2 separate regions of the Homo sapiens genome follow, and region 1 is reported to be linked to region 2. The links are microRNA targets in miRTarBase. Many come from high-throughput screens and were not tested one by one. Region 2 holds a microRNA gene; the other region holds the end of a gene's coding sequence.

Region 1 (4,000 bases), not on the chromosome of region 2:
ATTACTTTATCATTAGTCCTGACTAACAAGACCACTGCAATATAGGAGGCACTGTATGGTGGTAGACTAATGGGTGGGCTGAGTTTGAGTCCTGGCCATGCCATTTATAAGCTGTATAATTGTGAGACACTACTTAGATTCAGTTTCTTGATCTTTAAAGTAGGAAGATTAGTCCCTGTCTTACATGGTAGGTGTGAGGATAAAATAGATAATGTCTGTAACACATTTAGCAGTTAGGGCCTCTTAGAGTTTGAGAGAGCTGCAGGCTACTTCTTAGAGGATCCCACAATTTAAAATGTGACAACAGGATTTACATATTTATAGATTTTTACAGTTGTTCACTGGGGAAACAACATGAGACAATATAAAAGCAATAATAAAATAATTACCAGATTTTTTCGTAAGTGCGATTCTTAGTGGACCATAATTTAAAGTGTTATATGTCTTTCAGTTTTGTGGATGTATTTGCAGTATCTCATTTGGCCATGTCACAAGTTTAAATGTAAGTCACAAGTTTAAATGTAAAGCTCTGTGATTGTGAGACCTCCTGAGCACCTCCAGGATGGGCCCTGAGCACAGTGTTAATAGCTAATGTTTATCAGCTCATTTTTGGTTTCAAACAGTTTTCAAAGAATCGATAAGTACACTTTGCTGCTAAGGCCTCAACTATGTTCTCTTGGCTGCTTTTTGCTGGGGGAATGGCAGGGACAAGGTCTCACTCTGTCACTCAGGCTGAGTGCAGTGGCACGCTCATAGGTCACTGCAGCCTTGAACTCCTGAACTCAAGCAGTCCTCCCACATCAGCCTCACGATTAGCTGGGACCACAGGCACATGCCACCATGCCTGACTTTTTTTTTTTTTTTTTTTTTTTGAGACAGAGTCTCACTGTCACCCAGGCTGGAGTGCAGTGGCCCAGTCTCGGCTCAGTGCAACCTCCGCCTCCCGAGTTCAAGCAATTCTCCTGCCTCAGTCTCCTGAGTAGCTGGGACTACAGACACCTGCCACCATGCCCAGCTAATTTTTGTATTTTTAGTAGAGAGAGGGTTTCACCATGTTGGCCAGGCTGGTCTTGAACTCCTGACCTCAAGTGATCTGCCTGCCTTAGCCTCCCAAAGTCCTGGGATTACAGCGTGAGCCACCGTGCCTGGCTTTTTTTTTTTTTTTTTTCAAGAGACAGGGTCTTGCTATGTTGTCCAGACTGGTCTCAAACTCCTGGGGTCAGGCAAACCTCCCACTTCAGCCTCCCAAACTGCTGGAATTACAGGCATGAGCTACTGTGCCCAACCTCCTGGTTGGTTGCTTGCTTGCTTGCTTTTTTCCTCAACTCCTAAGTGCTTGGAAACTCTTGGTTGGTTTTTGTTGTTTTTGTTTTTTGAGATGGATTCTTGCTCTGTTGCCCAGGCTGGAGTGCAGTGGCACGATCTTGGCTCACTGCAACCTCCACCTCCCAGGTTCAAGCAGTTCTCCTGCCTCTGCCTCCTGAGTAGCTGGGATTACAGGCATGTGCCACCATGCCCAGCTAATTTTTGTATGTTGTGGTGTTTTTTGACACAGTCTTGCTCTGTTGCCCAGCTCTTGGTTGCTTTAAAAAATACAAAATTAGCTGGGCGTGGTGACGGGCGCCTGTAATCCCAGCTACTCGGGAGGCTGAGGCAGGAGAATCGCTTGAACCCGGGAGGCAGAGGTTGCAGTGAGCCAAGATCATGCCACTACACTCCAGCCTGGGTGACAGAGCAAAACTCCATCTCAAAAAAAGAAAAGTACAAACCACTTGAATAACATCTCTGAAAATTAGGGCATCTGGCATGTATAATCTCATGCTCTTCTAGTAACCATCAAGACATGATGTCCTGGCCCTAGCTAGCTATGGCATCCCATGAGCCTACTTTAAAGCACAGTTTACAAAGAAACTTCACCTGTGGTTGCCTCATACACAGACCATTTCCTTTGACTCTAAAGGAGTTTGAAAACTCTCAAAATATCAAAATATTTTAATTGATCTTAGACTGACTTAGAAACGGTTATTTACATACATTTAGAATTATAAATTGCAAAGAGAAATTTCCCAAAACCAAAATACTCACAAAATATTATTAAACATTCAAGCAAAAATGTTTTTAACCCAATTAAATTTCTCAGCTCAGTGGCCTGCTGATATAATATTGATTACTGGCTAAAAACTACATTTGCAGAAACTTTTAGAAATGTCTTTCATGGCCACATAGTATGTACTGAGCAATTGTGGAGTGAAGCACTGTACTAGGAGTTATCTAGAAGAATTCATTTAAATAGAAATTACATTGGAACATTTGTGAAAGACATTTAATAATCCACAAAACTTGCACAGGAAGTACAATAACAAGTGCTAAGGGTAATGGAGTGATCGAAGTAACAGGTGCAAAATCAGGATTACTTAGAGAAAATTTCAGACTTCAGAAGGCAGGTGGGGAGTCCTCGAGTGTTTTGAAAGCAAAAGGTATGAATTTGGTTCAAAACTGAAAGGAGTGACTTTAAGACCAAAGCATATATTGTGGATAGTTGACCTTCAGATTTGCATAGCTGTCCTGCAGGCTAAGGATGATATCAGTTATCTGGGAGGGTAACTGAAAGCTTTTTATAATTTGGTAGCAACTGGAGGCTACCACAGAACCATAGAGTAATTTTTTTTTTTTTTTTTTTTTTTTTTGAGAGCCTCCCTCTGTCTCCCAGGCTGAAGTGCAGTGGCACGATCTTAGATCACTGCAACCTCCACCTCCCAGGCTCAAGTGATTCTCCTGCCTCAGCCTCCTGAGTAGCTGGGACTACAGGCTCCCGTCACCGTGCCCAGCTAAGTTTTATATTTTTAGCAGAGATGGGGTTTCGCCATATTGGCCAGGCTGGTCTTGAACTCCTGACTTCAGGTGATCCACCCACTCGGCCTCCCAAAGTGCTGAGATTGCAGGAGTGAGCCACTGCACCTGGCCCACAGAGGGTAATTTTTTTTAAGTAGTTGAGAAGCTAGAGGCAAGGGGGCTGTCGAAATAATCTGCATGCAGAGTCATTGGAGCTATGATTGAACGTGAAGATGACAGGCCCAATTTTAAAAAGTAATAAACCTAGGATGAGGGTTGAAGAGACGGGGTAGAGTGACTTTAAGATTATAAGCCTTGGAGGGACCAGGAGAAAATGGCAGCTGTCAAACACAAGGGGAAACTGAGTCAAGCTGAGGCATTCTTGTGAAGAAAATAATGAGTTCTGAACAACCAGTCCAAAAACTAAAAACAGGCCTGGCAAGAAGGCATAGGGATGCAGACCAATGGAATGTGCAGGCTTGGAGAGAACACAGGTAAAAACGAATGCGGGAACTCTGGGGTGGGAGTGTGGGCTTAAAACGTCATTGACAAAGTGGCGGGGTACCTTCAAATGTGAGAGGTGCTGTCAAAACCATCATCAAGGTTAACAAGGACATGTCCTTAGCATGGAAGTCAGAAAGGACAGTATGCTGATGTGTCTCTCCCAGGCTGTCAGTCATGGCTCCTCAGAGCTTATCCCGAATTCTCCCAGAATCCTCAAAAGTTACCAAAGGCAGAAAAGATGTGTTCCTCCCATGAGTCCAGCTTTGAACCAATGTCTTCAGAGAGAGGGGAACAGGTTTCAAAATTCTGACCTTGGGAGCTAGAGTCAGAGATGCCCCCTCCAACCCCGTTTGGTTCGGGCAGGCAGTTCACATCTACCTCAAGAGGCAGCTGGGGCTTCAGACATTTCGTTTCAGTTCCAGGAGCACAGTGGTTGAGGATAATCTCCGGCCTAGCCAAAGGTTGGAAGGATTTCCCACTCTGACGCCGAGACTTGGCACGCCTGTTCTGGAACCATACCTGGAAGAGGGGAGAAAATAAAAGCTGCTTTTGGTTGGAGTTTTTTATGCTAACATTATGTTCACAGTTCATACTGGTAAGTTCCAGTTTAACATCCCCTGGCTTCCTCTCCAGAGCCTTGTCTTCAGAAAGCACTTGGGTTGAC
Region 2 (4,320 bases):
GGGCACTGTGGTTCATGCCTATAATCCCAGCACTTTGGGAGACCAAGGCGGGTGGATCACCTGAGGTCAGGAGTTCTAGACCAGCCTGGGCAACGTGGTGAAACCCTGTCTCTACTAAAAATACAAAAATTAGCCAGGCATGGTGGTGCACGCCTGTAGTCCCAGCTACTTGGGAGGCTGGGGCATGAGAATTGCTTTAACCCGGAAGGTGGAGTTTGCAGTGAGCCGAGATCGTGTCACTGCACTCCAGCCTGGGCGACAGAGGGAGACTCTGTCTCAAAAAAAAAAAAAAGTCAAGGAGGGTTTCCCAGAGTGGCCACTTGATTAGAGACCTAGCACAGGAGGAAGAGATGGGCAGGGAGAGTGACGGGGAGCAGCACAGTCCCTGGGAGCCCGAAGTGGGTGGGCACAGGGCTCCCTAGGAGAATGGAAGGACATCTATGAGCTGTAGCCCAAGAGGAAGAGGTCACTGGGGCTAGATGCGGCAGACCCTCGCAGGCTTTGGGAAGGGCTTCAGAATTCAGCCTGAGGGCAATGGGGAGCCCTTTTGGGATATTAAACTTGAGTAAGATATGAGCATATTTGCATCTTGAAAAATCATTATGGGAAGATGGCTGGGAAGAGAGGAGGAGTGGCAGAAGAAAGATAGGTTGGAGACAATTGATTGCTCGATGATATAAAATGTTAAGTACCATGAATGATGCTGTTAGGCTGGAATGCGCCAAGCATAAAGGTGGGGCATGGCATCAAAAGGTAGGTCAACATATTAAATAATTCCATGTATTGAAATATCCAGAAAATATATAGACAGATCTATAGAGATAGAAACTGGTCTGCCCAGGACTAGGGGTTGTCTAAGGATAAGGAGCTTCTTTTTTGGATGGTGAAATAACCTAAAATATATTGTGCCATTGTTTGCACAACTTTGTGAATATATTAAAAACCTGTTAATTGTACTCACTAAATGTCCTCCTTCTAAATTAAGCTGTTCTTGACAAGAAAAGGAAAGAAACAAAGAAAAGAAGAGAAAAAAGGTCAAGGTTTGGTCCTGGGTGCTCAAATGGCAGGCCACAGACAGGAAACACAGTTGTGAGGAATTACAACAGCCTCCCGGCCAGAGCTGGAGAGGTGGAGCCCAGGTCCCCTCTAACACCCCTTCTCCTGGCCAGGTTGGAGTCCCGCCACAGGCCACCAGAGCGGAGCAGCGCAGCGCCCTGTCTCCCAGCCTGAGGTGCAGTGCTGCATCTCTGGTCAGTTGGGAGTCTGAGATGAAGCACTGTAGCTCAGGAAGAGAGAAGTTGTTCTGCAGCCATCAGCCTGGAAGTGGTAAGTGCTGGGGGGTTGTGGGGGGCCATAACAGGAAGGACAGAGTGTTTCCAGACTCCATACTATCAGCCACTTGTGATGCTGGGGAAGTTCCTCTACACAAGTTCCCCTGGTGCCACGATCTGCTTCACGAGTCTGGGCATGTCCTGACTCCTCTGTGTACCCCAGTGTGTCCATCTTAGCATGAGGCGTTAGCATTTCCCCAGCACCCTGCCTCTGCTTTCTCTTTCTGAGCCCATGGCAGACACAGCTAATCAGTAAAGGCATATATTCTTTTTTTTTTGAGACACAGTCTCACTCCATCACCCAGGCTGGAGTGCAGTGGCATAATCTCAGCTCACTGCAACCTCCTCCTCCCAGGGTCAAGCAATTCTCGTGCCTCAGCCTCCCAAGTAGCTGAGATTACAGGTGTGCGCCACCACACCTGGCTAATTTTTGTATTTTTAGTAGAGATGGGGTTTCACTATGTTGGCCAGGCTGGTCTCAAACTCCTGACTTCAGGTGATCTGCCCGCCTCGGCCTCCCAAAGTGCTGGGATTACAGGCATGAGCCTCCACGCCCCGCCAGGCATCCATTCTTGAAGTGCTCAGATGCAGCTTCAGAATCCTCAACAATGAGCCCTGGAAAGCCACTAGTACTGATTCACAGCTGAAACTCATTCATCATTTGTGGATCAAACAATTCCTAAAAACCCTTTCAGCCCTGAAGATAAAAATTCTGGCCTTTGAGTCAGGGTCTTCACTCTGTACTTCTAACCTTGGCTCCGGGGTATTGCCGAAACCAGTCCAGGCACGTCACAAATGTCTGACTTCTCCCAGAGGCTTCAGAAGCACAATGAGCAGCAGAGGAGAGCCATGGAGCCAAGCACAGTCTCATTTAACCTCCCCAAAAGCTTGGGAAGTGGGTGGTGTTATAGCCCCATTTTACAGATGAGAAAAACTGAGGCTTATTTAAGCAGCTCACCTAAAGTCACATATTGATTGTGCTGAGCTGAGATTGTACCCTAATCTGCCTTCAAATCCATGTTTTTACCCATTGCATGTGATTATGGAACCTGGGACCGAGGAGCAGGAGGAGAACATTCTAAATTCTGCTCCCATCTTGTCTTTACATCTCAGGTCACTTTTAGCAAAGACAGACCCGGACACTTGCCATTAATACTACAGGCTTCCTTCCTCCTACCCCCTTCCCCCAATCTTATTCATCTCACCTCTCCAGTAGGTCGTGGACTCATGCATTTTATAATTAAAGAAGGCCAAGGCTCAGGGGTTAAGTGACTTACTGGAGGTTATCAGAGAGGAAGTTGCCAAACCCAGGCTAGGAACTGAATGGTTGGTTTAAATCCACCCCTCTGGCAGGAGACTGGGGAATACACATGAGCCGTGCAGACAGCAGAGGGCAGTCCTGGGGGTGGGGGCGCCAGAGGGTTTCCGGTACTTTTCAGGGCAATTGAAGTTCCGGTCACTACTCCCCCCCAGAGCAATAAGCCACATCCGGCGACGTGTGGCACCCCACCCTGGCTGCTACAGATGGGGCTGGATGCAGAAGAGAACTCCAGCTGGTCCTTAGGGACACGGCGGCCTTGGCGCTGAAGGCCACTCGCTCCCACCTTGTCCTCACGGTCCAGTTTTCCCAGGAATCCCTTAGATGCTAAGATGGGGATTCCTGGAAATACTGTTCTTGAGGTCATGGTTTCACAGCTGGATTTGCCTCCTTCCCACCCCACAGTTGCCCCCCAATGGGGCCTCGGCTGGCTCACAGGATGAGGGTTCAAGAAGAAGGCTGTCCCTGGAGGTAAGAGGGCTTATGAACCATGTTCCAAACCTTTGCGTTGCTTTTCTTTCCATCGTGTCTATTTCATAACATCCCTGTGAGGCTGGATGTGGGAACTTCAGCACTGCCGTACTCTTGGGAAATTTGTCCAAGGCCACCCGGCTGAGCAGCGGTTGAACCAGGACACCATCAGGCATGCGTTTCTTGTCTCCACCACACCCTCAACCCACTTCCCAACGCGCCTTGCGACAGGGGCTGCGGTATTGCATCCACATGACTGATAAACTAGTAAACACACATGAATTCATTTTAAAAGTGTATTCAATCAGTTAGGTAAACTAAAAACCTTAAGTCTTCGTTCGATTTGGAATGCAGCCAGAGAACAAATGGAAAATTTTTCAAGGTAGAGAAGATGAAAACTCAGAACGCCCTCTTGTGGCATCTCTACCCACCCTAGGAACACTATGGCTCTTCCCCTACACATGGTGATTGCTAACCTTGCTACAAGACGTTGGACACACACACACACACACACACACACACACACACACTGAGGTTCCTTTTGCCCCCTCACTTTTGAGCCAGTGACTACTGAAACCCTCTCCATTGTTGCACCACCAGCAATGCCCCCATCACTTCCTCTCATTTACTTCCACAGGCTGGTTCATCCTCAAAGCCCTCCTTACGTAGATCTGTGGGATCAGTGAGGCTCAGAGAGGTAAAGTGGCCAGCCCAAGGTCGCCCAGACAGCAAAAGGCAGGGCCAGCGCTGATTTCAAGTCCAATGGCCTATGGCAATTTCTTAGCCAAAAGCAAAATCTACAAAAATAAAAAGTCAGGCACAGTGGTGAGTGCCTACAGTCCCAGCTACTGAGGAGGCCGACGGGGGAGGACCACTTGAGCTTGGGAGTTCCTGGCTGCAGAGAGCTATGATTGTGCCTGTGAATAGCCAATGCACTCCAGCCTGAGCAAGATAGGGAGACCCTGTCTCTAAAAAATACCTAAATAATTTTAAAAGTCAGCCTCTCTGACTGCCTATAGAGAATGCTAACTAACTGAATGACAGAAGACCTAATGTAATCCAGGTGCAAAATCAGAACTTTCCGGCCGGGCGCGGTGGCTCACACCTGTAATCCCAACACTTTGGGAGGCCCAGGCGGGTGGATCACGAGGTCAGGAGTTCAAGACCGGCCTGCCCAACATGGCAAAACCCCGTCTCTAC

What was found. The annotated mature microRNA hsa-miR-145-5p reads GUCCAGUUUUCCCAGGAAUCCCU and lies in region 2 at 2,948-2,970, shown strand. An mRNA with a match to its seed (bases 2 to 7 or 8) in the 3' UTR can be bound and repressed. Matches are read on the target gene's strand: a 7mer-m8 pairs with bases 2 to 8, a 7mer-A1 pairs with bases 2 to 7 and ends in A, and an 8mer does both.
Region 1: the mRNA of MIXL1 is a reported target of hsa-miR-145-5p. The part of its 3' UTR that is shown has no 7-base or 8-base seed match.

The regions. Positions count from the first base shown.
Region 1 is chr1:226,225,362-226,229,361 of GRCh38, reverse strand. MIXL1 (Mix paired-like homeobox) reads right to left here. Exons shown (of 2, transcript NM_031944.3): 2 at 2,302-3,855. The coding sequence ends at 3,550. Among named protein-coding and RNA genes, the nearest start is that of MIXL1, 3.7 kb to the right of the region's middle.
Region 2 is chr5:149,427,714-149,432,033 of GRCh38, forward strand. MIR145 (microRNA 145) reads left to right here and starts at 2,933; the gene lies at 2,933-3,020. It overlaps CARMN (cardiac mesoderm enhancer-associated non-coding RNA), which reads left to right. Exons shown (of 5, transcript NR_105060.1): 4 at 1,170-1,326. It overlaps MIR143 (microRNA 143), which reads left to right and starts at 1,205; the gene lies at 1,205-1,310. RefSeq lists an enhancer at 3,273-3,567.